7 linked regions of the Homo sapiens genome follow. The protein of the gene in region 4 purifies or fractionates together with the protein of the main gene of each other region. This does not show direct contact. Each region holds a gene or a part of one and is shown on either strand. Other genes may lie near its edges. The genes, in order: RBM34, PMPCB, TRABD, COQ8A, EIF3L, RAB7A and ESYT1.

Region 1 (3,500 bases), 8.2 Mb from region 4:
TGTATGATGACTCTACTTATATAAAATTCTGGAAAAAGCAAACTAACACATAGAGACAGAAAGCAAATGAATGGCTGCCTGAGGACAGAGGTGGAGGGACATATTGCAGAGGGTTAGAAGAAACTCGAGATGATAAAGTGTTTGGTATCTGGACTATGGCAGTGGTTTCAAGATTGCCTACATATGTTAAAATTATAAAATTGTACATGTCAAATATGTGCAGTTTACTGGAAGTAGCCTTAATAAACTAAAAAAAAAAAAAAAAGGTTTTAAACATTTTGGCTATAAGAAAAAGGAAAAAAGTTTTACATGGCAAAATTTCCCATAAGCCAAGTCAAAAAGCCAACAAGCTAGGGTGTGGTGGTGTGCACCTGTAGTTCCAGCTACTTGGGAGGCTGAGGCAGAATGATTACTTGAGCCTAGGAATTCCAGGCTATAGTGGACTATGACTGAGTCACTGCACTTCTGCTGGAGAACAAAGCAACACTCTATCTCTTAAAAATAAAATAAGGCCCAGCGCGGTGGCTCATGCCTGTAATCCCAGCACTTTGGGAGGCCGAGGGTGGGGCAGATCACCTGAGGTCATGAGTTTGAGACCAGCCTGACCAACATGGGGAAACCCCGTCTCTACTAAAAATACAAAATTAGCCAGGTGTAGCGCACATGCCTGTAATCCCAGCTACTCAGTAGGCTGAGGCAGGAGAATCACTTGAACCAGGGAGGCGGAGATTACGGTGAGCTGAGATCACGCCATTGCACTCCAGCCTGGGCAACAAGAGCAAAACTCCGTCTCAAAAAATAAATTAAATAAATAAACAAATAGCAAATGACAAATAGAGAAAAATATTCATAATTCATGTCACAAAAGACTGATTTCATGAACATCCCACAGATCAATAAGACTAATAATTCAAATAAAAGAAAGCACAAATGACTCTTAAATTACATGACAAGATGCTCACTCATAAGAGAAATTCAAATTAGAAATACCACACTCAGGTTTCCAACAACCACAAAGCTCAAAAACATACTTTTTTTTTTTTTTTTGAGATAGGGTCTCACTGTCATCCAGGCTGGAGCGTAGTGGTGCAATCATGGTTCACTGCAGCCTCCATTCTCCGGGCTCAAGTGATCCTCCCACCTCAGCCCCCAGAGTAGCTGGACTACAGGCGTGCACCACCTTGCCCAGCTAATTTTTTTGTTTCTTTGTAGAGATGAGGTCTCGCCACGCTGCCCAGGCTGGTCTCGAACTCCTAGGCTCATGCAATCCACCCACCTCAGCATCCCAAAGTGCTGGGATTGCAGGCATGAGCCATCTTCCCTGGCCAACATACTGTTTTTGTAAAGTAAAAGACTTTACTGTTGGTAAAGATGTGGGAACATAAATAGGTTGCAATCTCTACGAGACAGCAGTCAAAATTGTGAATGCAAATACCCTTCTGACTGAGCAATGCCACTGCTAGAAGTTTATCCTACAGATAAGTTTAGCTTATGTACAAAATTACCTAAGTACAAGGTCACTCATTTACTCCAACATTATTTGTTTTGTTTTGAGAGAGCGGGTCTTGCTTGTCGCTCAGGCTACAGTGCAGTGGTGTGATCACAGTTCACTGAAGCCTCAAGCTCCTGGGCTCAAGTGATCATCTCACGTCAGCTTCCCAAGTAGCTGGGACTACAGACACGTGCCTCCATGACCAGCTAAAATATTACAGCAGGTTTTTTTTTTTTTTTTTTTTTTTTTGGAAGACAGGGTCTCACTCTATCACCCGGGCTGGAGTGCCAGGGGTGCAATCATAGCTCCACTTCCTGAGCTCAGGTGCTCCTTCGTCTGATTCCCAAGCAGCTGGGACTACAGTGCACAGCATCATGCCCAGCTAATTTTTTGTAGAGATGGGGTTTTGCCATTTTGCCCAGGGAGGTCCTGGGCTCAAGCGATCTGCCCACCTTGGCCTCTAATGGTGCTGAGATTACAGGCGTGAGCCACTGCACCCGGCCTTCAGCATTATTTGTAATGGTCATGAGACTGGGAAAAAACTTTATGTCCATCAGTGGGAGATTTGATAAAATAAATTAAGGCACACCTAGAGAATACTCTAAGAAAAAGGGCATTTTTAAAAAATGCTATAAAAATAATCACTTTCACACCAATATAAACAGATCTCCAAGTTGTACTAAGCAGAAAAAGGGAAGGTGTGGAGTAGTGCATATATTAAATACCAGTGAGTTAAACTGTTTTATGTGGGAAGAAGAACATCTATGCGTATCAGTTTTTAAATGCTAAGATGTCTCTAGAAGCTTACATAAGAAACTAAAAACACTTGCCTAGGGTAGGGAATTGGCTGACTAGAGAAAAGGTGTATAATTAAATTTTATTTATTTATTTATTTTGAGACAGAGTCTAGCTCTGTCACCAAGGCTGGAGTGCAATGGCGTGATCTGGGCTCACTGCAACCTTCATCTCCTGGGATCAAGCGATTCTCTTGCCTCAGCCTCCCAAGTAGCTGGGACTACAGGCATGTGCCACCACACCCTGCTAATTTTTCTATTTTTAGTAGGGACAGTGTTTTGCCATGTTGGCCAGGCTGGTCTCAAACTCCTGGCCTGAAGTGATCCACCTACCTCGGCCTCCCAAAGTGCTGGGATTACAGGTGTGAGCCACCACAGCCAGCCATCATTAAATTTTAAATTAAAAACAACAACAAAAAGGCAGTGGCTCATGCTCATAATCCCACTGCTTTAGAAGGCTGAGGCAGAAGGATTGCTTGAAGCCCGGGGTTCAAGACCAGCCTGAAAAACATAATGAGACTCTGTGTCTACAATAAAATAAAATAAATTAGCCAGGGTGGTGTGCACACCTGTAGTCCCAGCTACTGGGGACACTGAGATGGAAGCATCACTTGAGCCCAAAAGTTTAAGGCTACAGTGAGCCAAGATCTTGCCACTGCACTCCAGCCTGGGTGACAGAGCAAGAGCTTGTATGTTAAAAACACAAAACAAAACAAAGAAACAAAAAAACAATGAGATGGGGCTGGAGGAGAAGCTGACGGTATGGTGTGAAAATTCCAATTTTCTAACATATCCCACTAAACTCCTCAGTAGTACTTGTACATACACCTGTCAGAACCTCTGTTTCTGTTCAAATTTAGGCTCCTGGGTTTCAACTTCATACAGAAATAAAAGTATGACTCAAAAAGAAGGGTTGTATCTTACTAAGGTTTCTAGTCACCACAGCACTGAACAATGCCTGGTATCTAGGAGGATCTGCATCTTTGGTTACCTCAGCAAACACTGTGGGAATCTATATATTTATCAACTCTTAACTATACACCTGGCACTGTGATGGTTATGAGGAAAAACCGGCGAAGACCTGGTCGGCCAAATAACTCCAAATGAAGACTCAATATTGAAATGAAGTCACCAAGATGTCCAAAGGGACTGTTGCCATACAAAAGCTTGATAGAACAGGATTCCCAGAAATGTTTCTAAAGTACATTATTATA
Region 2 (3,500 bases), on a different chromosome or scaffold from region 4:
AGGGTGGATCTCCTGAGGTCAGGAGTTCAGGACTAGCCTGGTCAACATGGTGAAACCCCATCTCTACTAAAAAATACAAAAAATTAGCCAGGCATCGTGGGCATGGTGGTGCGCCTGTAATCCCAGCTATTCGGGAGGCTGAGGTGGGAGAATGGCTTGAACCTGGGAGGCGGAGGCTGCAGTGAGCCGAGATGGCACAACTACACTCCAGCCTGGGCAACAGAGCAAGACCTCATCTCAAAAAAAAAAAAAAAAAAAAATTCTATAGTATAAATCAGCTTCACATCTTGAGACTTAGGAAAAACCAACTGCAACCTTTGAAAACATGGCAACTACTGTTTATCTAGGTCTCTTAATTAAAAGGTAAAATTACCATAAATCACCATAAAGTATAAATAAAAAACTAGTTTAAAACGAATTAAAGGCAAAATTTAAATTACTTAAAGCTATTTTTCTCACCATTCTTTTTGAACAACATGTAGCATGTCTGCAACAGTGGATGATTCACAAACCATATACAGTCCCCATAATCCTGTATCTGTGTAGGAAGTGTTGAAAGACTGAAAGCTATGGCAAAGATTGCCATGACAAGTGAGCTGGGCCAGCTTGCTAGATAAATTCTGCAAGGAAAAAAAAATTCCAAGAGAATTTTAATTATACATGTCCAAAATACAGAAAGAAAAATGGAGTGTGTGGAAAATAGTGAATATCCTTAGAGGCTGTTTCCTAGTTTTATTCAACATCTCAGTAGTAGAGTTAAAATTCAGTATGACTAAGAATTGTGTTTATTATCTCACTTACCCAGTGCACCCCCTGGAGAAATTCATGTTATAAAAGCAATGAGTCCTTATAATTAATGTAGTAGCTATACCTACTTCTAAAACTAGATGGCTATTATCAACCCAATTTCTAGGACTCTTGGCTACATACGCTTAAAGATTCAAAGTTATATTGCATATGAAGCTTAAGATTATTTAGATGAAATGTATTTTGGAGAAATCTATGAGTAAAGACAAATCTATACAATGTGTTTTGAAATAATTCCAACTTACAAAAAAGTTGCAAAAACAGTACAGAGAATTTCATTTATCTAGATTCCCTGTTATTTTACCATGTTTGCTTTATTCTCTTTATACAAGTTTTTTCAACTGAGTTTTAGATGTGATGCTTCTTGCCCCAAATACTTTAGTATGTACTTGTGAAAAACAAGGAAATTAATGTTCTTACATCACCTTGGTATAGTTCCTCAGTATCTGTGGAGAATTGGTTCCCAGATCCCTGTGGATACCAAAATCCACAGATGCTAGAGCCCTCATGTAATATGGTATATGTAATATTTGCATATAAGCACATTCTCCTGTATACTTTAAATCATCTCTAGATAAATACCCAATCCATGTAAATGCTATGTAAATAGTTGTTATACTATATTGTTTAGGAAGTGACCAAAAAAAAAGTCCATACATGTTTAGTACAGATGCAACCATCCATTTGTTCCCCAAAATTTTCCACCTATGGTTGGTTGAATCCACGGATATGGAACCCACAGATATAGAGGGCCTACTGACTATTAAAATTAGGATATTAACATTGACATAGTACTTCTAGCTAATTCTGTCCTTATTCAAATTTTGCCACTAATAAACTTTGTGGCAAAGAAAAAAAGAAACTTTTTCTGGCCCACATGCAATCCAGGATCAGTTTATATTTTTAAGTCAGAATTCACAGTACAAGACTCTATTCTGCCACTTTAAAAAAGGATTCTTACAAAGAACTTATATTTAAGAAAACATGATAATCTTCCATCTGTTATGGAAAATTTCTTTTAAAATCACTTACCATTCCTCCCCCAAAAGAGCGATCCCAGTTGCCAATCAGCGTGTTTGCAACCATGAGACAGATTGTATCTGGATGTGCCCAACCAACAGCTTCAACAGCTATTGCAAGGTGCGCCAAAGGCATCTTGTCATCCCTCACACGAATCTAGTTAAGATAAAGCAGGAGGACCTCTAGTTAAGATTAACATTATATAACATGCTTATTAACAAGGAAAAAATCACCAGTCCCATTAACTGCAAAGTTAAAATGCACACCAGGACTCTATTTTGATTTTTTAACTATCAGGCCTCATTACATTGTTGAGTTTAATCTAGAAGAATTAAGACTAAATTAGGGAAAAATTACTTTTCCCAAAGCATTTTACTACAGACAGGCACCACATGGTTTACCTGGTCAAAAGGGTTGCATCATTTCACTGGTAGAAATCAATCCTTTGTGTTTGTCAATCTGAATTTGTCTTTTTCTTTCTTTTTTTTTGAGACAGAGTCTCACTCTGTCGCCCAGCCTGGAGTGCAGTGGCACCATCTCGGCTCACCGCAACCTCGGCCTCCCATGTTCAAGCAATTTTGCCTCAGCCTCCCGAGTAGCTGGGACTACAGGCATGCACCACCACGCCCAGCTAATTTTTGTATTTTTAGTAGAGACGGAGTTTCACCATGTTGGTGAGGCTGGTCTCAAACTCCTAACCTCAAGTGACACACTCGCCTCAGCCTCTCCAAGTGCTGGGATTACAGGCGTAAGCCACCGCACCCGGCCTCAATCTGAACTTTTCTATTGAAATGTCATATTGACGTTACAGGTTTATTTTTGTACTGCCAATGCTACAGTTCTAGGCAGCTGCCAATATCAGGGCATTTTCCAGATACTACTTTGAGCATCATCCTCAACATGGCAAACTAAGCAGCTAGTGGGGCTTAAAGCTAGTTGATAACTAGTAGATCCCCTGCAAGTTCTGGCTCTAACAGTTACTACCCCCTCCCAAAACATACTGTGGGCAAAACTGAGCCAAGAGTAAACCTGAAGTGAAAGTCAAAATACGGGGTTTAAAAGATTACTTCCAGATATTACAATATGTAAATTGGCATAGTGCCAAAGAAAAAGCACAAAAAGACCAAATTATAAACTGCTCTTAAAAACTTTGCTTCCTTTCAGACTAGAATGGAGAAATTTAAAAACAAAACAAAAAAAACCTTGCTTCCTTAGGAAGAAAAATAGGTGGTTAAAGAATACGGAAGAGGAAGGAATGTAAGCAAATGAGTACATCCTCTTCCCTTTTCCTATTATTCCATTCTTTTCCTACTGGAAATATGCACATTTTGTTTACTTATGTGTAAATACAACACAAGGAATCCAAAAGGCTAAATACTAGCTGGAAGGCTTGCCCTACCTCACTTCCTGTGAATTTGCAGGGAGGCAGAGCTGGTATTTCTCCTTTGTGTGTGCATAAAGAGTCACCGAAATGAAACTTTGCTAAGTCAAGCAATTCATCATGGGAAACACCTAAATTGAAAGAAAATATTTTCACATGTATCTAGCAGCAATATAGTTTACAATAAACCCTAGGTGGTATAATGTGATGTACATTACACATGAACTATCTACACTCACTAAAAGCCATTATTTAAGAGTAAGCTCACATAGCACACCTATTTCCTTGGTGT
Region 3 (3,500 bases), on a different chromosome or scaffold from region 4:
GGAGAAATTAAAAAATGAAAGGCAGGCGCCAAACGTTTAGGGACATTTCTATAAGATCTCATTATAATTGTTTCCTTTGAACAGGGGGAAGGCAAACTGACCAGGGCTGGGGTCAGGCGTGCTGGGCCCCCTTTGAAAACACAAAGCCTGGCCGGGCGCGGTGGCTCATGCCTGTATTCCCAGCACTTTGGGAGGCTGAGGTGGGTGGATTGCCTGAGCTCAGGAGTTTGAGATGAACCTGGGCAACATGGTGAAACCCCGTCTCTACTAAAAATACAAAAAATTAGCCAGGTGTGGTGGCAGGCACCTGTAATCCCAGCTACTCAGGAGGCTGAGGCGGGAGCATCACTAGAACCCAGGAGGCGAAGGTTGCAGTGAGCCAAGATCGCACCACTGCACTCCAGCCTGGGCAACAGAGCGAGACTCTGTCTCAAAAAAAAAAAACAAAAACCGAAAACACAAAGAGCAATGAGAAAGTCCTGCCTCTCCGGTCACTGCAAGGCTGGAGAAGTGGGGACAGGAGGAGCCCTGAGCCCCACCCACTTTGGGCCTGGGTGTGGTACCGGGGGGGCCAACCTTGCACTGAGACCTGACCCATCCCCAGCAACTGCTCAGCAACCCAGTCCTCGGGTGACCAGCCCCTGCCTCAGCTTGGAGAGCCACCCATTTCCTCCTCCCTTGCCTGAAACCGGGTAATGGAGCCTCTTTCATTTCTCCTGGCCCAGGGGAGGTCCCTAACCCGGCAATCCCCAGGGCAGGCCAGGCACAGCCACACTGACTGGGGGCATGGGCTGTGAGAGGAACCTGGGCAACAGGCAAACAGGTGGCTTTGACCCCGACCCTGACCCTGACCCTTGCCCGCGGCTGCGCACCTGCCTCACGGCCTGCTGCAGCTTCTCCAGGCTGAGCTCCTGGGCCTCCCGCAGCAGCGTGCTCTCGTCCATCTTCAGCATGGACACACGATATTGGCAGAGCTCCACGACCACCACGTCAGGCTGCACCTCCCGGATGGTCTGCAACAGCCACAGGTCACACCTCGAGAACACAGCCGCTCCCTGCCCCTCAGCACAGCTGACGCCAGCACCAGGGGCCCCATCCCAGGAGCAGCCAGCCTTGGCGTCACCCCAGGGCTAGCTAACCCCGCTGCTGCAGTGACAGCTCAATTCTCTAAGCGACGAGAGAGGAAGCTGTGAGGCTTGTTCACTTGTTAAGTGGGAAAACGCACAAGGCCGTCACGGCTCCCAGGCAGGAAGCCCACCTTGCCACTCCCAGGGACCACAGTGTTGAAGCAGGAGGCCTGCGGTGCGCACACACGGGCACACGGGCCCTGCCGGGAGGTCCCTGAGTGCAGGACACAGGAGCTTACACCAACCCGTGTCCGGGATGTGGCGGGTGGCGGCGCTCACCTTCACAACGTCCCTCTTGCTGTCGTCGCTGAAGTGGGCTGTCCCCACCACGTACACCCTGCTCCCGTCCTCAGCCACCAACTGGGTCACAGTGCGCGGCAGGTTGGGCCGCTGACGCCGCCGCTTCAGCTTCATCTCCAGGAGCAGGTTGAAGGCGTCCACGTCGGCTGCAACAGCAGCACAGGCCGTTGTGGTGCCGGGCCCACCCCAAGGACGCCGCCGGGCCCGCTGGCAGCCTGGGCTCTAGAACCCTCCTGGGTTCTGAGAACTGAACAGGTGCAGAGCACAAGACTCCTGACGAGCGTCACACTCCACAGGCTTTGCCTGCCCAGTGATGGGAACACCGGCTACCACCTCTGTGAGCTGCACGGCTTCGAGAAGCCAGGGCCTCAGGAGTCCTGTGCCCCATACACCCCATGAGGGCGACCTTGGGGGTTGCTGTGGATGAGGTTCGGTGTGGGGGACAGTGGGGGCAGGTGCCGCAGGGGGCTCAGCTAGGGGAGGGGCTCTGAGGCGAAATGGGCCCCCCCACCCCACTCAGGAGGGACAGGCTGAGGCCACAGCAAGGAGGGACTCCCGTGCCGCTCACACTGCTTGTGCTCACGAGCCCCCCATGCCCAGGGGCCTGCCTGTGCTGCTTGCAGCCCCTCCAAGAGGCTCCACTGCCAGGCAGGGCCCAGGAGCAGCTGCTGTTGGGTGGCACCAGGCCTAGCAGCACCTACCTCAGGTCTCGGCCAGGGCCCCTGCTCACCACAAGCTCCAAGCCCCTGGCAGTGGTTGGCTGCCTCCCCCTCCTCCCTGACTCAACAGCCCAACACCGGGGAACGTGCCAGGACCCTGAGGGACACGTACACAGGTTCTGGGGGTCTCCAGAAAGCACCCTGGGCACCGGCTCTGAAGCCTCTGACGGCACAACAGGTTCCACGTTGGCCTGCAGGTGGAAAGGAGAGTTCAAGTCAGGGTCCATGCACCCCAGAAAGCCAGGGCTCCGTGGCAACTCCACGGACCACGTACCCTGGAAAGGGACCCGTGGCCGCTGTGTGGACCACACACCCTGAAAAACGAGGGCCCGTGACCGCTCCACGGACCACGTACCCGGGAAAGGGACCCGTGGCCGCTCTGTGTACCACACACCCTGAAAAGCAGGGCCTCCGTAGAGCCTAGGCCCCACACTGTCAGTACCCCTCCTGCTTGGCCATCACTGGCACGGCTGCCATCAAGCTGGGCAGACAGGGCCACCAGGCCACCTCAGCCCAGCGCCCCTCTCCCTCGGAGGTGCCTCCTGCCTGACCCTGGAGAACCCTGTGAAGATCACCTTTGCAGAACAACAGCCAGGGACCGACCCCGAGAGCCCACAAAGCGGGGAAGCCCCCCGCCCCTGTCTCTGTGCAGCCAGCCCAGCCTCCACCTCACCTCGTGCGGTGGCTGCTGCTCCTCCCCGTCCATGGCTGGGCGGCGGCTTCCTGCACCTGTGGGGAGCCTGAGGAGAGGCATGAGAGGCGGGGTTTCCACCTGGAGCCCCAGACCTGGCTCAGGACTCACTGCGTAGTGCCCTGTCAGTCTAGAACCATCTGTTGGGTGGGCCTGGGGGCTCCTTCCCCCATATCCCCAAATGCCTCCTGCCCATCAAAGGCTGCTGAGGTCCAGGGTCGGTTCAGGTCAGGCCCGGGTGGGGAAAGGCCAGCAGGTCCCCAGACACCCCAGCATAAACCAAACGCAGACGGGCCCAGGGCGGGTTGCTGGTGCACAGGCCTCACTCAGAACAGGGCCAGAGCTGCCCAACCCTCACTGCGGCACGGCGGGCACACATAGGAAGGCAGCCCTGGGGTCCACACATGATCTCAGGACACAGCAACGCAGCTGCTGACACATGGCAAGGACCCCAGGGCCTTTGTACAAAAGCCACTTCCCCTTTCAGTAACTACAGCCTGGGCAACAACACCGGCACAGAGTCAGTACAGACGGAGGAATCCACAAAGCACACAAATCAACGTGTTTGGACCTAAGACCTTCTCTCCCACTTTAAGAGACAAACATGGTGTGGAAGGAACCACGGTAGAAACCCGGACAGGCTGGGGCAGCCACACGAGGGGG
Region 4 (3,500 bases):
ATATGTACGTGTGCATGCCTGTGTGTATTGGGAGGCGCTGGCGTAGGGCCTGGGCATGTGGCTCACACAGGCTTGGGGAGGTGGACATGGAACAGTAGTTAGTTATGTTGCTGGTTTTATGGACGCCTGGGAGGAAGGACATTGTCTGAGCCTCCGTCTGTATCAGGTGGGGCTTGCCATCCCACTCCCAGACCCCCCCGAGTGCCGTGGTGACCCCTCTTGCCCGCCCACAGGGAAGAAGGCCGTGCTGGGTTCCAGTCCTTTCCTGTCCGAGGCCAATGCAGAGCGGATCGTGCGCACGCTCTGCAAGGTGCGTGGTGCGGCACTCAAGCTGGGCCAGATGCTGAGCATCCAGGGTGAGTGGGCGCGGGGGCTGCTGCCCCGGGACTGCGTGGGCTGCTGGGGGGGTCAACTTCCAGGGCCGGGAGCAGTGGCCCCACCAAAGCTCAGTGGGCAAGATGTGAGCAGGCTGGGGAGAGATCTTAGAAGATAATAGGCCTGGTCTCCAGACGGGTGGCTCTGGGTCCAAAGAAACACATGGAATAAAGAGCAGAGAGGAAAAATTGCTCTCTACAGGTGGTCAGAACACAGGTCATTTCAACATTTTACTATGTTTTATTTTCCAAATTTCTTTTGTAATTATGAAAAACTCTGCATGTTGAGTGTAAAAAGCCCACCTTCTCAGGTCACTGGGCGGAGGCTGGGGCTCCCGGGAAGCTGAGTGGCCGAGGGCGTGTGTGCGAGGGCTCCTGTCTTTCTGGCCTCACCCGTGCTCCTGGTGGGGAGGGTGTGGTGGCCAGGGCATCCCAGGAGTGTGCCCGCCCAGGTCCTGGGCGCACACTTTAATCCCCAGGTTCGCCCTGTGTCATTCTCCTGCCTTCCAGATGATGCCTTTATCAACCCCCACCTGGCTAAGATCTTCGAGCGGGTGCGGCAGAGCGCGGACTTCATGCCACTGAAGCAGATGATGGTGAGGAGCCAGGGGCTCTGCCCACTCTCTGTGGCCTCGGCCCCCACTGGGTGGAGGGGACAGACTTGGGGCTTCTCCCGGTGGCCCAGGCAGGGCATGCTCAGAGCCCCTCCCTGGCCCTGCCCTTCAGAAAACTCTCAACAACGACCTGGGCCCCAACTGGCGGGACAAGTTGGAATACTTCGAGGAGCGGCCCTTCGCCGCCGCATCCATTGGGCAGGTGCACTTGGCCCGAATGAAGGGCGGCCGCGAGGTGGCCATGAAGATCCAGGTAGGCGGCCTGATGCGCAGTGCCTGTCCCTATGGGGGCTGCAAGGGGCAGAGCTGGGGCCTGGCTCATGGAGGCCTCTACACCCCACGTCCCGCAGGGCACCCTCTCTCCTGGCAGGGCCATATGTGGTGTCTTCTGGCCCCAGTGCCTGGACGGCACCAGAAGCTTGGGAAGTATTTGCTAAATGAGTGACTTTGGGGGCACAGAGGGGCCCCCAGCAAGCTTGATTTGGGGTGGGCAAGGACAGGGGACAAGTGATTGCTTTTTGGGGCCAGAGCTGGTGGGAGGGTGGCCGTGAGCTGTTCCCAGGGGTGAGGTGAGGCAGGAGTAGGTGGACAACGAGGCTGTGATGGGGTCCAGGTCACGGCAGCATGGCTGGGTCTTAGCTCTGGTTCTCCAGGGTGTGGGCTGGGGCCAGGACACAGCTGGGAAGCCAGTTGGGGGTTGGGGGAGTGCCCCAGGCAGGGCCCACCCGTCTCCCTGGGCTAACTCCCCTGCCTCACCCATACCCCCACAGTACCCTGGCGTGGCCCAGAGCATCAACAGTGATGTCAACAACCTCATGGCCGTGTTGAACATGAGCAACATGCTTCCAGAAGGTCTGAGGCTAGGTGGTTGGGTCAAGGGCAGGAGTGGGTGGCAGGCATCTGTGTTGGGTTCTGGGGACCAGAGGGGGTCCTCCCTGCAGAGCCCCCTTCCTCGCTGATGCCCTCCTCCCTGGCCCAGGCCTGTTCCCCGAGCACCTGATCGACGTGCTGAGGCGGGAGCTGGCCCTGGAGTGTGACTACCAGCGAGAGGCCGCCTGTGCCCGCAAGTTCAGGTGTGGCCCCCGGCCGGGCCCCTTGCGTGTTTGCACCAGGGAGGCAGAAGGGACCATGTTCAGCAGCTGGTGAAGGCCCCTCCAGCTCTGAGGGGCAGAGGGCTGGGGTTGCAGCCTGGGCCGAGGCCATATCCTGCCTGGGGTGAAGGAGGGCCCTCTGCCTGGTTGGGGGGTGTGTGTGGGGGGGGGGACGGTGTGGAGGGCCTGTGGCTAGGGCGTGACCTCCCTCCCCTACCCAGGGACCTGCTGAAGGGCCACCCCTTCTTCTATGTGCCTGAGATTGTGGATGAGCTCTGCAGCCCACATGTGCTGACCACAGAGCTGGTGTCTGGCTTCCCCCTGGACCAGGCCGAAGGGCTCAGCCAGGAGATTCGGAACGAGGTTTGTCTGTGCCAGCAGACAGGTGGGGCCAGGGTGGCCCTGCTGTGTGGCTGTTTGGTGACCTAATAGTGTGAGCTGGGGACTTGGAGCCCTGAGGTGCTCCCTGGGGGTGAGGGGCAGTGAAGTAGCACCAGTGGGACTTAGGGGGACACAGGGGAGCTGCTGCCTTCCCTGGCCCAAGTAACACTGGGAATCAAACAGTCCCTAGGGTAGGGTGGGTAAAACAGGAGGCAGGGGCTTCTCTGGCCCCAGTCTCCCAGGGCACCAGGCAGTGTGGTGCTGCCTGACACAGACCCTTCGCGCTGTCCACAGATCTGCTACAACATCCTGGTTCTGTGCCTGAGGGAGCTGTTCGAGTTCCACTTCATGCAAACAGACCCCAACTGGTCCAACTTCTTCTATGACCCCCAGCAGCACAAGGTGAGCCCCAGGGTGGGGGCACCCGCAGCCAGGCCTGAGAGCTTCTCCGAATGGGGCACGTGAGGCCCTGGACTGCCCCTTGTCCTGGGAAAGTCAGCAGAGAGCTCAGGGCTCTGGGAGTGGGGATCCTCACTGCCCTCTGTTGCACCCCCTTCCCGGCCCCACACACCCGCACCATGGAGCACCAGGGCCAAACTTCTCCTGGTGTCTCTGTCCCCAGGTGGCTCTTTTGGATTTTGGGGCAACGCGGGAATATGACAGATCCTTCACCGACCTCTACATTCAGGTAACTGGAGAGGGGCCCTGGCCTTGGTCCATGTTTTTCTGAGGCTGGGACAGGATGCTGGGGGACTCGGGGTAGGGAGAATGACTGGGTTCCTGCCCTTGTGTCCCCATCTGCGCTGCCTGCCCCTCAGGTCTGGTGACAGCAGGCAGTTAGGCTGACAGCTGCCAGGCGTGGTGTCACAGCACTGGCCGGGGGCCCTGTGCAGGGAGAGGATGAGGGTGGGGTGGGCTCGGGTGTGGCACTTGGCTCCCTGGGATGTCGGGAGCTGAGCTTTTCATGCTGCCCACGGTCCCCTCCTGTGCCTCTCCCCAGATCATCAGGGCTGCTGCCGACAGGGACAGGGAGACTGTGC
Region 5 (3,500 bases), on a different chromosome or scaffold from region 4:
TCAGAGCAAGCTGAACTCCGCAGGTTTTGAGGGGCTGCCGTTGTGTAATGAGCGTTAGAGATAAGATAGGTCAGTCAAAGCTGGGATAGTCAGGAGTGACTTCACCAAGGAAATAGAATTTAAGCAAGTCAGAAGGATGAGGGAGAGAAAACAAATAGCCAAAGGCCTATTGATCAATGAATAGGATCTCTGACATGTGTTTTCTTTTTTTGTTGTTTTGAAAGAGCTGATTGTAGTTGAAAAGCAGAGGAAACCTCAGACATTGCATGGTTTTAGGCCTCACCCCTGCCACTCTCGTGAGCCTAAGTTCTACTTGGTGTGGACTCCAAGGTCCTTCCCGCCCCTGCAAGCCACCCATTAGGTTGAGCTGAGAGATCAGCCAATGGGAACAGAGTCACTTATGACCAAGAAGAATTGATCTGGGGGTTAGTTAGTGAGGAGAGAGAAAGGGAGAAAACCTTGTTCGGAGGTTGAACACCTCCAGCCGAAGAAGGTGCAGCATCGAGGTCTTTCACCACTAGCAAATGGATCCAAGTCATGCGGCACCAAAAGAGGTTAGCAGCTGAAGGGTGTTGAAGTGACACAACACCAAAACATGCTACCAATGATGAATCCGTATCTGTACAGGTCTCCAGCAGCCTCAGTTCTTGCCTCCTCAAAAGAAAGAATTCGACTGAGGGGTAAAATGCTACCGATGATGAGTCCGTATCTGTACAGGTCTACAGCAGCCTCAGTTCTTGCCTCCTCACAAGAAAGAATTACACTGAGGGCTAAAATGCTACTGATGATGAGTCTGTATCTGTACGGGTCGACAGCATCCTCAGTTCTTGACTCCTAACAAGAAAGAATTCGACTGAGGGGCACAAGGCAGAAGAAGAGAGGGAGGCAAGTTTGAGAGCAGGAGTGAAAGTTTATTAAAAAGCTTTAGAACAGGAATGAAAGAAAGGAAAGGACAGTTGGAAGAGGGCCAGGTGGGTGACCTGAAAGGCAAGTGTGCTGAACTGTGTTTTCTTTATTCCCCGGGTCTTTTCTGATTAGAAGTATATAAATCAGCGCCTACAAAAATTAGCTGGGGCATGGTGGCAGCATGCCTATAGTCCCAGCTAGTTGGGAGGCTGAGGTGGGAGGATCACTTGAGCCTGGGAGGTTGAGGCTGCAGTGAGCTGCACAATGGAGCGAGACCCTCTCTCAAAATTAAAAAATGGACCTGATGTTCAATAGAAATGTAGCTAGACATTAATTTTAATTTTTCAGCCAAGCGAAGTGGAGATTTATTTAAAATATTATTTCTATATGTAATCAGTATTTAAAAATTAAGGGGATATTTGCCCTTTTTTTTCTTTATACTTAAAGTTTCCTAAATCCAGTGTGTATCAGAAATACTTGCTTTGTGTTTAGATTTTATAGAGTTTATGACTGGAAAAGTAATTCAAATTTGAAATTTGAATCTTCAAATAGTAGAGTAATTCCAAATAGACCTAAAAGTTTTCCAATACTGAGTTAAGTGTTGGTTTTTAAACTTAAATGGCAACTAACTGAAATTTAAAATTTAACTCTTTGCTTATATAGTAGCCACATGTAGCTAGTGGCTATTGCATTGGGCAGTGCCCGCAGATACAGATGACAGTTGAAGCCAAGCATCTTGTAAGTCTTTCTCTAGGAGAATGTGAGAAGAAATGCTGGTGCCTTAAGAAGTATGTTTCTTTAGGGATGGGTGGGCAGGCAAAGAAAGGATCTAGTAAAGGAGGCAGAAAGAAAAGTGAAAAGTAGATAGTAAATTGGCAAAGAAATGTCACAGGAACCAAAAAGTCTGCAGAAGAAACTGAGGAAGAGAGTATCACCAAATGTTTTAGTGAGGTCCAGATGAGAAAAAAAGCCAGTTGAATTTGGTAACTTGGAGGGCCTTGATAACCTTAGCAAGGTCAATGTCAGTAGAGTGATGGAAGCAACAGCCAGAGAGCAGTGGGGTGAGAAAGGGGAATTGGTAAGTATCGGGGACATAAAGGGTCACTGAGTGGCTTTGTGTTTTGTTTCTGTGTTTTTTCTGTTTTTGTTTTTTGTTTTTTGAGACAGGATTTCGCTCTTGTTGCCCAGGCTAGAGTGCAATGGCGCAATCTCAGCTCATCGCAACCTCCGCCTCCTGGCTCCAAGCGATTCTCCTGCCTCAGCTTCCCAAGTAGTTGGGATTATAGGTGTGCACCACCATGCCTGGCTAATTTTGTATTTTTAGTGGAGACGGGGTTTCACCGTGTTGGTCAGGCTGGTCTGGAACTCCTAACCTCAAGTGATCCACCCGCCTCAGCCTCCCAAAGTGTTGAGATTACGGGTGTGAGCCAGCGCGCCTGGCCTGTTTCAGTGTTTCTTTTCTGTTCTGTTTCTGTGTTTCTCCCCAACCCCCATCCCGTAGAGACAGGGCCTTCCTATATTGTCCAGGCTTGTCTTGAATTCCTGGGTTCAAGCGATACCCCTATCTTGTCCTCCCAAAGTGTTGAGATTACAGGCGTGAGCCATCATGCCTGGCCTGTTCAGTGTTTTTTAGGGGAACTTGAGCATGTTTATATGTTGGACTAAAAGAGCCAGAGAAGCAGGAGGGGTGGGGCTTGAGGAGATTGGAGGAAAGTATTAATAGCTGCTGAGGGCATCAGGAGAAGAAAATTAAACAACCTGTTGCAGGTTTGTCAAGTAGCAGTGTTTGGATTGGATAGGCAGCAGTGTTTAAATTGGATGCTGTAGGTCTGTTGTGGCCTTGGACTGCAGCAGACTGATTTGCTTCTGTGTTTAGAGACGTTTGGATGTGCTCCAGGAGATGGAAACGCTGTGTTAAAGAATGGTGGCCAAAAAAGTAGTTCTTATAGCAGAAAACAGCAAGCAGTTAAATATGGCTATAGTTAATGATACAGAGGCAGGAGATTATCCTGAAAAGCTTGATGGGTCCCTAACTGATACAAAAACAATATTTTCTTGTGTTGAGAAAGATTGAAGTGTGGAGTTGGGTTGAGGACAGTTGTGGGCTTGAAGGGCTTTGGCCTCAGCTCTGTTTATTTGACATCTTCCCCTTTCTAAGCCTGGGTCCTCATCTGTAAAATGTTAGGATTGGCATTCTCCAGTCCTTTTGGAATTTTAGAGATTTTTTTCTTGATTTTTAGCTGGACCAAGCTGACTGAAAGATTCTTCAAGAATACACCTTGGCCCGAGGCTGAAGCCATTGCTCCACAGGTTGGCAATGGTAGGTGTGAGCTCTTTATATCTTGTGCACTGAGTGGAATCCAGTGGCTGAGTCATTAGACAGGAAGCTCAAGAGGGTCTGTGTCTGTTTTGCTCACCATTTTGTTTCCTTGGTGCTTGGTATGTAGTAGGTCCTTGGCAAAATAACTTGTCGAAGGCTGGATGATTTAAGAGAGGACAGAGATCTCTCATATATGGTGAAATTTAGATCTTTGTACTGACTTGTTTCTATTTCCTTCTATAATTTGGGGGTCATTACAGTCACTCTGGAATAA
Region 6 (3,500 bases), on a different chromosome or scaffold from region 4:
TTAAGGGAGCGCTCTGGCAGAAGGTGCCATGCTCAGGGGAGTAGCAAGAGAAAAACAGATTTTGTGACAACTCCAGGTCAATGTGAAGAGAGGAGTCTTGCCAGAAGAAGCAGCAGTCTGCACTGAGCAATCAGGACAGAAGTTCATGGACATTCTCAATCAGATCATGATCTGGGAGCTCTACCACATCCAGTTCAGATGCTTTCTGTATGTTCCCTATAGTTGCCAATGGTTAACAATGGTCTGGATTTCTAGCTTTTCTCAAACATCTGGCAACCCTCAGCCAGTGTGTGCACGAGGTGAAGTGGCTGGAGCTGAGTGTGAGCTGCCCTCTCAGCCTGTAACATTCCTTCTACCTCCCTATCTTCCATCCACTTTTCGGGACCAATGGCCTCTGGTCTCTTTTTTCTTCCAAAGGTTTAGCAGAGTTTTGTCTCCCAAATGCTGCAGGCCTAGAAAGGAAGCTGTGAATGAATTTTATCACCATCTGTGACAAGTGATCAGAGCACATGGACTATGGTCATTTTAGTGGCACTTTGCTAAAGTAACATGCTTCCAATGAGGAGCAGCATTCTACTTTTGGGTGCAGGAAAACAATGTCACTTAAACACTGAGCACTTGTGTGCCAGTGACTGTTCTAGAATTTGGAGATAAAGCAGGAACTGTTTCTATTCATTAAAAGTTATCTAGGAAAAAAATCATTCCATTCACAATAACTATAAAAGTATAAAACATCTAGGAATACATACTTAAAAAAATAACAGCTTTGGCTGAGCATGGTGGCTCACGCCTGTAATCCCAGCACTTTGGGAGGCTGAAGCAGGTCGACCACCTGAAGTCAGGAGTTCAAGACCAGCCTGGCGAACATGGTGAAACCCCGTCTCTACTAAAAATACAGAAATTAGCCAGGCATGGTGACAAGCACCTATAATCCCAGCTACTCAGGAGGCTGAGGCAGGAGAATTGCTTGAACCCGGGAGGTCAAGGTTGCAGTGAGCCAAGATGGTGCCATTGCACTCCTAATAGCTTTGCTGGGTTTTAACTCACATGCCATGAAGTGTACAATTCAATGGTTTTTAGTATATTCAGAAAGTTGGGCAGCCATCAACATTAAGTTTAAAATACTCTCATCACCCCCCAAAAAACCCTATGCCCATTAGTAGTTCCTTCCCACCCCCATTCTATACCATCCTGGACCCAGCAACCACTCATCTACTTTCTGTCTCAATAGAGTTGCCTATTATTCTGGACACTTAATTTTTAAACATTATTTATTTATTTTAATTTTCCCCATTTCTTCTAGTGGACTGTGATTTCTTTCTTTTTTTTTTTTTGAGGCAGAGTCTTGCTCTGTCGCCCAGGCTGGAGTGCAATGGCATGATCACAGCTCACTGCAGCCTCTAACTCCTGGGCTCACACAATCCTCCAGTCTCAGCCTCCCAAGTAGCTGGAACTATAAGCTCATGCCACCACACCTAGCTAATTTTTAATTTTTAGTAGAGATGAGGCCTTGCTATGTTGCCCAAGATGGTCTCAAACTCCTGGTTTCAAGTGATCCTCCGGCCTCAGCCTCCCAAAGTGCTGTGATTTTAGGCATGAGCCACTGCATCCGGGCTGGACATTTCACTGAAATGGAATCGTACAACATATGGTCTTTTTGCAACTGGCTTCCTTCACTTAGCACCCATGTGGCAGCATGTGTCACTACTTCATTCCTTCTTATAGCTGAATAATATTAGAATGCATGGATAAGCTGCCCTGTTTATTCACTTACCAGTTGATGGACATTTGAGTTGTTCTTACTTTTTGGCTATTACAAATAGTGACATTTTATATTCCCACCAGTACCTAGGAATATGTTTACTGTGAAAGGCAAAGGATCATATTATAAATCAATTATAGCATGGGTGTGCCTGTAGTCCTACCTACTTAGGAGGCTATGGTGGGAAGACTGCTGGAGCCCAGAAGTTGGAGGTTATAGCGAGTGATGATTGCACCACTGCGTATCAGCCTGACTGACAGAGCAAGACCCTGTCTCTAAAAAAAAAAAGAATCAATCAATCTTACTGAAGGAACAGAAACAAGACCTAAAATAGTATCATGGGTGGAATGTTTTGTTTTTTTTTTTGAGATGGAGTTTCGCTCTTGTTGCCCAGGCTGGAGTGCAATGGTGCAATCTCGGCTCACTGCAACCTCCACCTCCCAGGTTCAAGCAATTCTCCTGCCTCAGCATCCTAAGTAGCTGGGATTACAGGTGCCCACCACCACGCCAGCTAATTTTTTGTATTTTTAGTAGAGATGGGGTTTCACAATGTTGGCCAGGCTGGTCTTGAACTCCTGACCTAAGGTGATCCACCCGCCTCAGCCTCCCGAAGTGCTGGGATTACAGGCATGAGCCACCGCACTCGGCTGGGCAGAATGTTTGTGTTCCTCCAAAATTCCTGTGTTGAAGCACTAACCCTTCAGGTGGCTGTATTTGGAGTAAGGAAGGAATGAAGGTTAAATGAGGTTGCAGGATGGGGACCTGATCTGAGAATTCGTGTCCTTATAAGAAGAGGTGACACCAGAGACACCTTGCTCATGTGTCCTCTCTCTGTGCACACAGCAGAAAGGGCATGGGAGGGACACAGTGAGAAGATAGCCCAGAAAAGCACCCTCACCAGAAACATGTGCCAGCACCTTGCTCATGGACTTCCAGCCTCCAGAACTGTGAGAAAACAAAATGTCTGTTGTTGGACCCTCCCAGGCTGTGGGGTTTTGTTAACGCAGCCTGAGCAGACTAATGCAACAGCCACAACAAAACTGCAATCAATGAGGAAAAAACAGTGGGCTTGAAGAAAAAAATTCCAATCAAAATCTCAACAGAGTTTTATTTGGGGTGTGGAAGGTAAGAGAGGAAAATGGTGGAAACAAAATTATTAAAAAAGAAATGTGGCAGGCCGGGTGCGGTGGCTCATGCCTGTAACCCCAGCACTTTGGGAGGCTGAGGCGGGCGGTTCACAATGTGAGTTCCAGACCAGCCTGGCCAACATGGTGAAACCCTATCTTTACTAAAAAATTACCAAAATTAGCTGGGCATGGTGGCGGATGCCTGTAATCCCAGCTACTCAGGAGGCTGAGGCAGGAGAACCGCTTGAACCTGGGAGGCGGAGGTTGCAGTGAGCCGAGATCACGCCATTGCATTCCAGCCTGGGGAACAGAGCAAGACTCCGTCTCAAAAAAAAAAAAAAAAAAAAAAAAAAAAAAGACTGTGGCAAGAGGAAACTTGCCTCATCAGGCAGTCAAATCAACACAGTCCAGATAAGGGAACATGGCATGGACATCACCAGAACAGACTGGAGAGACCAGAAACAGATCCCAGCACATACGAGCATTTAGCACAGGCCACGGTCTATTCAGGGAGGGAAACGGCTTGTGTAACATAGCTGAATGATTTCAAACAACTGGCTGAGCTCTCTTGAGAGGAAAGGCAAGTCTCTCTTTTCTGCCATAAGCCAAAA
Region 7 (3,454 bases), on a different chromosome or scaffold from region 4:
TAGCTTGCATTCCAGGAAAGTTCTTGCAAGGAGCAGAGTTCAAGGTGTACAGATGATCGAAATGGGTGTATTTCTCAGCTCCTGCTAGATGGGCCTGAAGCCCTTTTGAATGTAGCTGAGCATGCCCTGACAGCACAGAGACACCAGGAGCCTGTGCAGTGGCACAGAGACACCAGGAGCCTGTGCAGTGGCACAGAGCTCCCAGGTTTACCAGGTTTAGGAATCCCTTCCCTGGAAAGCCTATAGTGGTCAGCAGACAAGTTGGATGGGTAACAGAGTTCATCACTGTGACTGGAAATGAGTCTCACCTGAAATGCAACAGCAGCTACTTTACACAGGTCTCTTGACCATCCTCAACATTCTTGGTGGCTGCAACCTTAGTAGGCTTTGACCATTAATTAAACTGACATGATTCACGAATTGGATAAAGGCTTTTGACAGTAGGAATAAACATCAGATGGGTAGATTGATTCCCTATCCTTAAGGAAAAGAACCACAGCTGGTTTGAGTATGATGTTTAATGTAAGATCCAGTGGCTTGGCAGAGTTGGTGCAAAACTGTAAAGTACCAGATTAAGTTCTAGTCAGTGAGTTAGCAGCCTAGGCACTTGGGCAAAAAAATTGGCCCTGCTGTCCCAAGTCCTCCAAAGCCCTCTCCGTATCACCAGCTAGGAGCTCCAAGACTGATATGCCACTACTTGGAGGCTTGAGTAGAATCCACGCGTCCTCAGTTTCCAAAGTGACAAGAGACTGGCCCCAGCCATCAAAGCAGTAGAATTTTCAGGACAGGGTTGAGGACAGTGGGGACAGAACTGGACATGGGGGCCTGAGCTGCTGAACATTTGCTACATGCAGTAGTCTAAGAGGCTCACAGCTGGAGAGGTTAGCCTGTCCACCTTCCCACCCATGTGTGGTAGGGAAGAAGGTGACCATCTAGTTAAAGAAAAAAAGATCCTTCCAAAGCTGTATTTGGCATAAGCTAATACCACTGCTAGTGCTGCCACTGGCCAGGCACAGATACAGAAGGCCCTGAGGAGTTGGGAGGAAGGGAGAACAATGTGCAGGCAAAGCAGGAAACAGCCAGCTCAGGTCCCCGCCCCAGGGGCCCAGAAGGATAAAGGCCGTGCAGTAAAGGGAACATACGGTTCTTCTCTTTGGTCAGGCAAAGGCCCGAATATGGGCCTGTTAGGTGAAAGGGCTGAAGGGCACAGGCTCTGCCCTTGGACCCTAGCTTTAGGCTCATCACATTGAGGCGGTGATGGAGCGAGACGAAGGCAGGAAGACAGAGCAGTCAGGCTGGGACTCGCCAGCTCCTAGGAGCTGCCCTTGTCCTTGTTGTCCATCAGGTCATACCTGTGAAAAGAGGGCTCATGTAGAAAGATGACTCTTGTGTCATCATATTTATAAATGAGACACGATCCAAGGGCTTCTCTACTTGATAGAATCAATGGTTCTCTGCTCAGATTGTATCTTTTTTTCCTTTCCTGTGATTGGAATTTCTCCCACTGAAATATCCAGACCATCCCCCACCCACGCAGACACTCACCACCGGGCTACACCCTGGGAAAGGTCTGTCTCAGCTAGGTCCAGCTGCACCTGTGTTGGAAGATGATAGGGGAAAGATGTTATTTCTTTTATTTTTTGAGACAGGATCTCATTCTGATGATGCTGTTTTGAAATCTCCAAAGACCATGTTCCTTCATCACATACTCGTCCCAAACCATTGCAGAGGTGAGTCACCTCTAAAGGATCACGTGGGGTACTTCCTTCCTCACAGGGACTATAACCTTGGTGCCAGCAGCTTCCAGCCCTCACCTCTGCCCTGCCATCCTGCCCTCTTACCTTCCCCAGCAGCTCACGCTCTCTTGACATGAAGGAGGAATTAGACTTGACAGAGACATCCAGCTTTCGTCTCTGGGCCTCATCCAGGGGGAGTTCCCACTCAAACCTGGGGTAGGACTGGATGTTAGGGGCCAGGAGTCCTTTCCAAGCCTGCCATCTCTCCACCTGAATGCCCACTGACTGACCGTTCATTAAATTCAGGACTCAGGGTCCTCTTCTTCTGTGAGGTCCTCCTCTTGGTGCCTCGGTTCTTGTCTGGCAGTAGCAACAGTGACACATAGGGATCAGGAGGATCACGTCCATTCTGTCGAAGGGACCTACAACAGGAGGATGTAGGTGATATGGTAACCTGAGGGAAGGGATGGAGGCGATCTGGAGGACAGGAGGGATGGGGTCTCACCGGCAACCATGAACAATGCTGACCAGCTTTCGTTCTTCACTGTAGTACCACAGAGTCAGTTTCACCTGGCCCAGAGGCCCGGCTGGAGCCTCAAGGGGACTGTGGAGAAATATCAGTAGGTCTGGGGAAAGCTAGAGCCTAGTGAACCTGTAATACTTTTTATTTCTGACTGCGTCCCACCTTCCTGTCCCAGCCCTTTACCTGTCAACATGTGTTAGGCGCTGCCGGAGCTCTGGGGCTGAGGAGGTGATGTGAGGGGGTCCCCCCGAGAGCTCTGGTTCTTCACTCAGCGATGAGGAGCTGTGGCTGTAGCTGTGGCTATGAGCTTCCACTCCCGAGTGCTGGGACACCAGGATCTAGGGGCAAGAAAGCTGTGAGCTGGGCAGAGTTCTCTCAGTTCCCTCACTCTAAGGACACGGCCCTCTGTTCCCACCCTCCTGGGTGTCCCTCACCTGTGAAGGCCCTCCCCTCCTCCCTCTCATCCTGCCCACCATCTCCTGTCACTCACCCCTAGCTGTGCTCTCAGTAGCACCTGCCCCTGACCACTGCTGAGTGTAAACCAGCGGTCCAAGCAGAGCTGGTCAGCCACGAGGAGCTCTGAGAGGGGCAGGGATAATGAGCCCAGCACGCCAGTGCCCTCACCCCGAACCTGTGGGGCAACAGGACCATGATCAAGAGGCGAATGCATCAACAAATGAGTTAATCCTGGTGTTTTAAAGGTCCAAACGCTTGGACTCATAGGTGGTTTGGTGAGATTTCCCTTTGAGAAAGGCAGGGAAGCCATGGTAACAGTTGCTAGTCCCTCCCTCTGTCCTTCCTTCCTTTTTTTTTTTTTTGAGACAGAGTTTCGCTCTTGTTGCCCAGGCTGGAGTGCATGGCGTGATCTGGTCTCACCGCAACCTCCGCCTCCCAGGTTCAAGCGATTCTCCTGCCTCAACCTCCTGAGTAGCTGGGATTACAGGCACCTGCCACCACGCCCAGCCAATTTTGTATTTTTAGTAGAGCTGGGGTTTCTCCATGTTGGTCAGGCTGGTCTCAAACTCCCAACCTCAGGTGATCCACCCACCTCAGCCTCCCAAATTGCTAGGATTACAGGTGTGAGCCACTGTGTCTGGCCTGTCCTTCCTTTCTTAACCAGAGTAGAGTGGACCATCTTTACCTCATAAACTTTCAGAAATTATTATTATTATTTTTGAGACGGAGTCTCGCTCTG

What was found.
Region 1: the proteins of COQ8A (region 4) and RBM34 purify together in Homo sapiens (affinity purification with mass spectrometry; one large-scale study listed by BioGRID and IntAct). This does not show direct contact.
Region 2: the proteins of COQ8A (region 4) and PMPCB purify together in Homo sapiens (affinity purification with mass spectrometry; 2 studies listed by BioGRID and IntAct, with this or other methods). This does not show direct contact.
Region 3: the proteins of COQ8A (region 4) and TRABD purify together in Homo sapiens (affinity purification with mass spectrometry; one large-scale study listed by BioGRID and IntAct). This does not show direct contact.
Region 5: the proteins of COQ8A (region 4) and EIF3L purify together in Homo sapiens (affinity purification with mass spectrometry; one large-scale study listed by BioGRID and IntAct). This does not show direct contact.
Region 6: the proteins of COQ8A (region 4) and RAB7A purify together in Homo sapiens (affinity purification with mass spectrometry; one large-scale study listed by BioGRID and IntAct). This does not show direct contact.
Region 7: the proteins of COQ8A (region 4) and ESYT1 purify together in Homo sapiens (affinity purification with mass spectrometry; one large-scale study listed by BioGRID and IntAct). This does not show direct contact.

Annotation. Positions count from the first base shown.
Region 1 is NC_000001.11:235,144,251-235,147,750, forward strand, and holds part of RBM34 (RNA-binding protein 34), read right to left. Parts: intron 1-3,500.
Region 2 is NC_000007.14:103,307,435-103,310,934, reverse strand, and holds part of PMPCB (mitochondrial-processing peptidase subunit beta isoform 1 precursor), read right to left. Parts: intron 3,340-3,500; coding exon 3,227-3,339; intron 1,984-3,226; coding exon 1,840-1,983; intron 621-1,839; coding exon 460-620; intron 1-459. UniProt on the Homo sapiens protein: Catalytic subunit of the essential mitochondrial processing protease (MPP), which cleaves the mitochondrial sequence off newly imported precursors proteins. Preferentially, cleaves after an arginine at position P2.
Region 3 is NC_000022.11:50,192,413-50,195,912, reverse strand, and holds part of TRABD (traB domain-containing protein), read right to left. Parts: intron 2,887-3,500; 5' UTR 2,853-2,886; coding exon 2,820-2,852; intron 2,338-2,819; coding exon 2,259-2,337; intron 1,574-2,258; coding exon 1,407-1,573; intron 1,014-1,406; coding exon 873-1,013; intron 1-872.
Region 4 is NC_000001.11:226,981,794-226,985,293, forward strand, and holds part of COQ8A (atypical kinase COQ8A, mitochondrial), read left to right. Parts: intron 1-233; coding exon 234-356; intron 357-884; coding exon 885-970; intron 971-1,100; coding exon 1,101-1,241; intron 1,242-1,758; coding exon 1,759-1,840; intron 1,841-1,967; coding exon 1,968-2,061; intron 2,062-2,300; coding exon 2,301-2,442; intron 2,443-2,754; coding exon 2,755-2,862; intron 2,863-3,082; coding exon 3,083-3,148; intron 3,149-3,460; coding exon 3,461-3,500. UniProt on the Homo sapiens protein: Atypical kinase involved in the biosynthesis of coenzyme Q, also named ubiquinone, an essential lipid-soluble electron transporter for aerobic cellular respiration.
Region 5 is NC_000022.11:37,852,419-37,855,918, forward strand, and holds part of EIF3L (eukaryotic translation initiation factor 3 subunit L), read left to right. Parts: intron 1-3,146; coding exon 3,147-3,226; intron 3,227-3,500. UniProt on the Homo sapiens protein: Component of the eukaryotic translation initiation factor 3 (eIF-3) complex, which is required for several steps in the initiation of protein synthesis.
Region 6 is NC_000003.12:128,809,683-128,813,182, reverse strand, and holds part of RAB7A (ras-related protein Rab-7a), read right to left. Parts: intron 1-3,500.
Region 7 is NC_000012.12:56,141,721-56,145,174, reverse strand, and holds the end of ESYT1 (extended synaptotagmin-1), read right to left. Parts: intron 2,891-3,454; coding exon 2,750-2,890; intron 2,598-2,749; coding exon 2,443-2,597; intron 2,341-2,442; coding exon 2,242-2,340; intron 2,159-2,241; coding exon 2,027-2,158; exon of another isoform or gene 1,948-2,026; coding exon 1,842-1,947; exon of another isoform or gene 1,650-1,841; intron 1,596-1,649; coding exon 1,546-1,595; intron 1,353-1,545; coding exon 1,313-1,352; 3' UTR 501-1,312; downstream 1-500. UniProt on the Homo sapiens protein: Binds calcium (via the C2 domains) and translocates to sites of contact between the endoplasmic reticulum and the cell membrane in response to increased cytosolic calcium levels.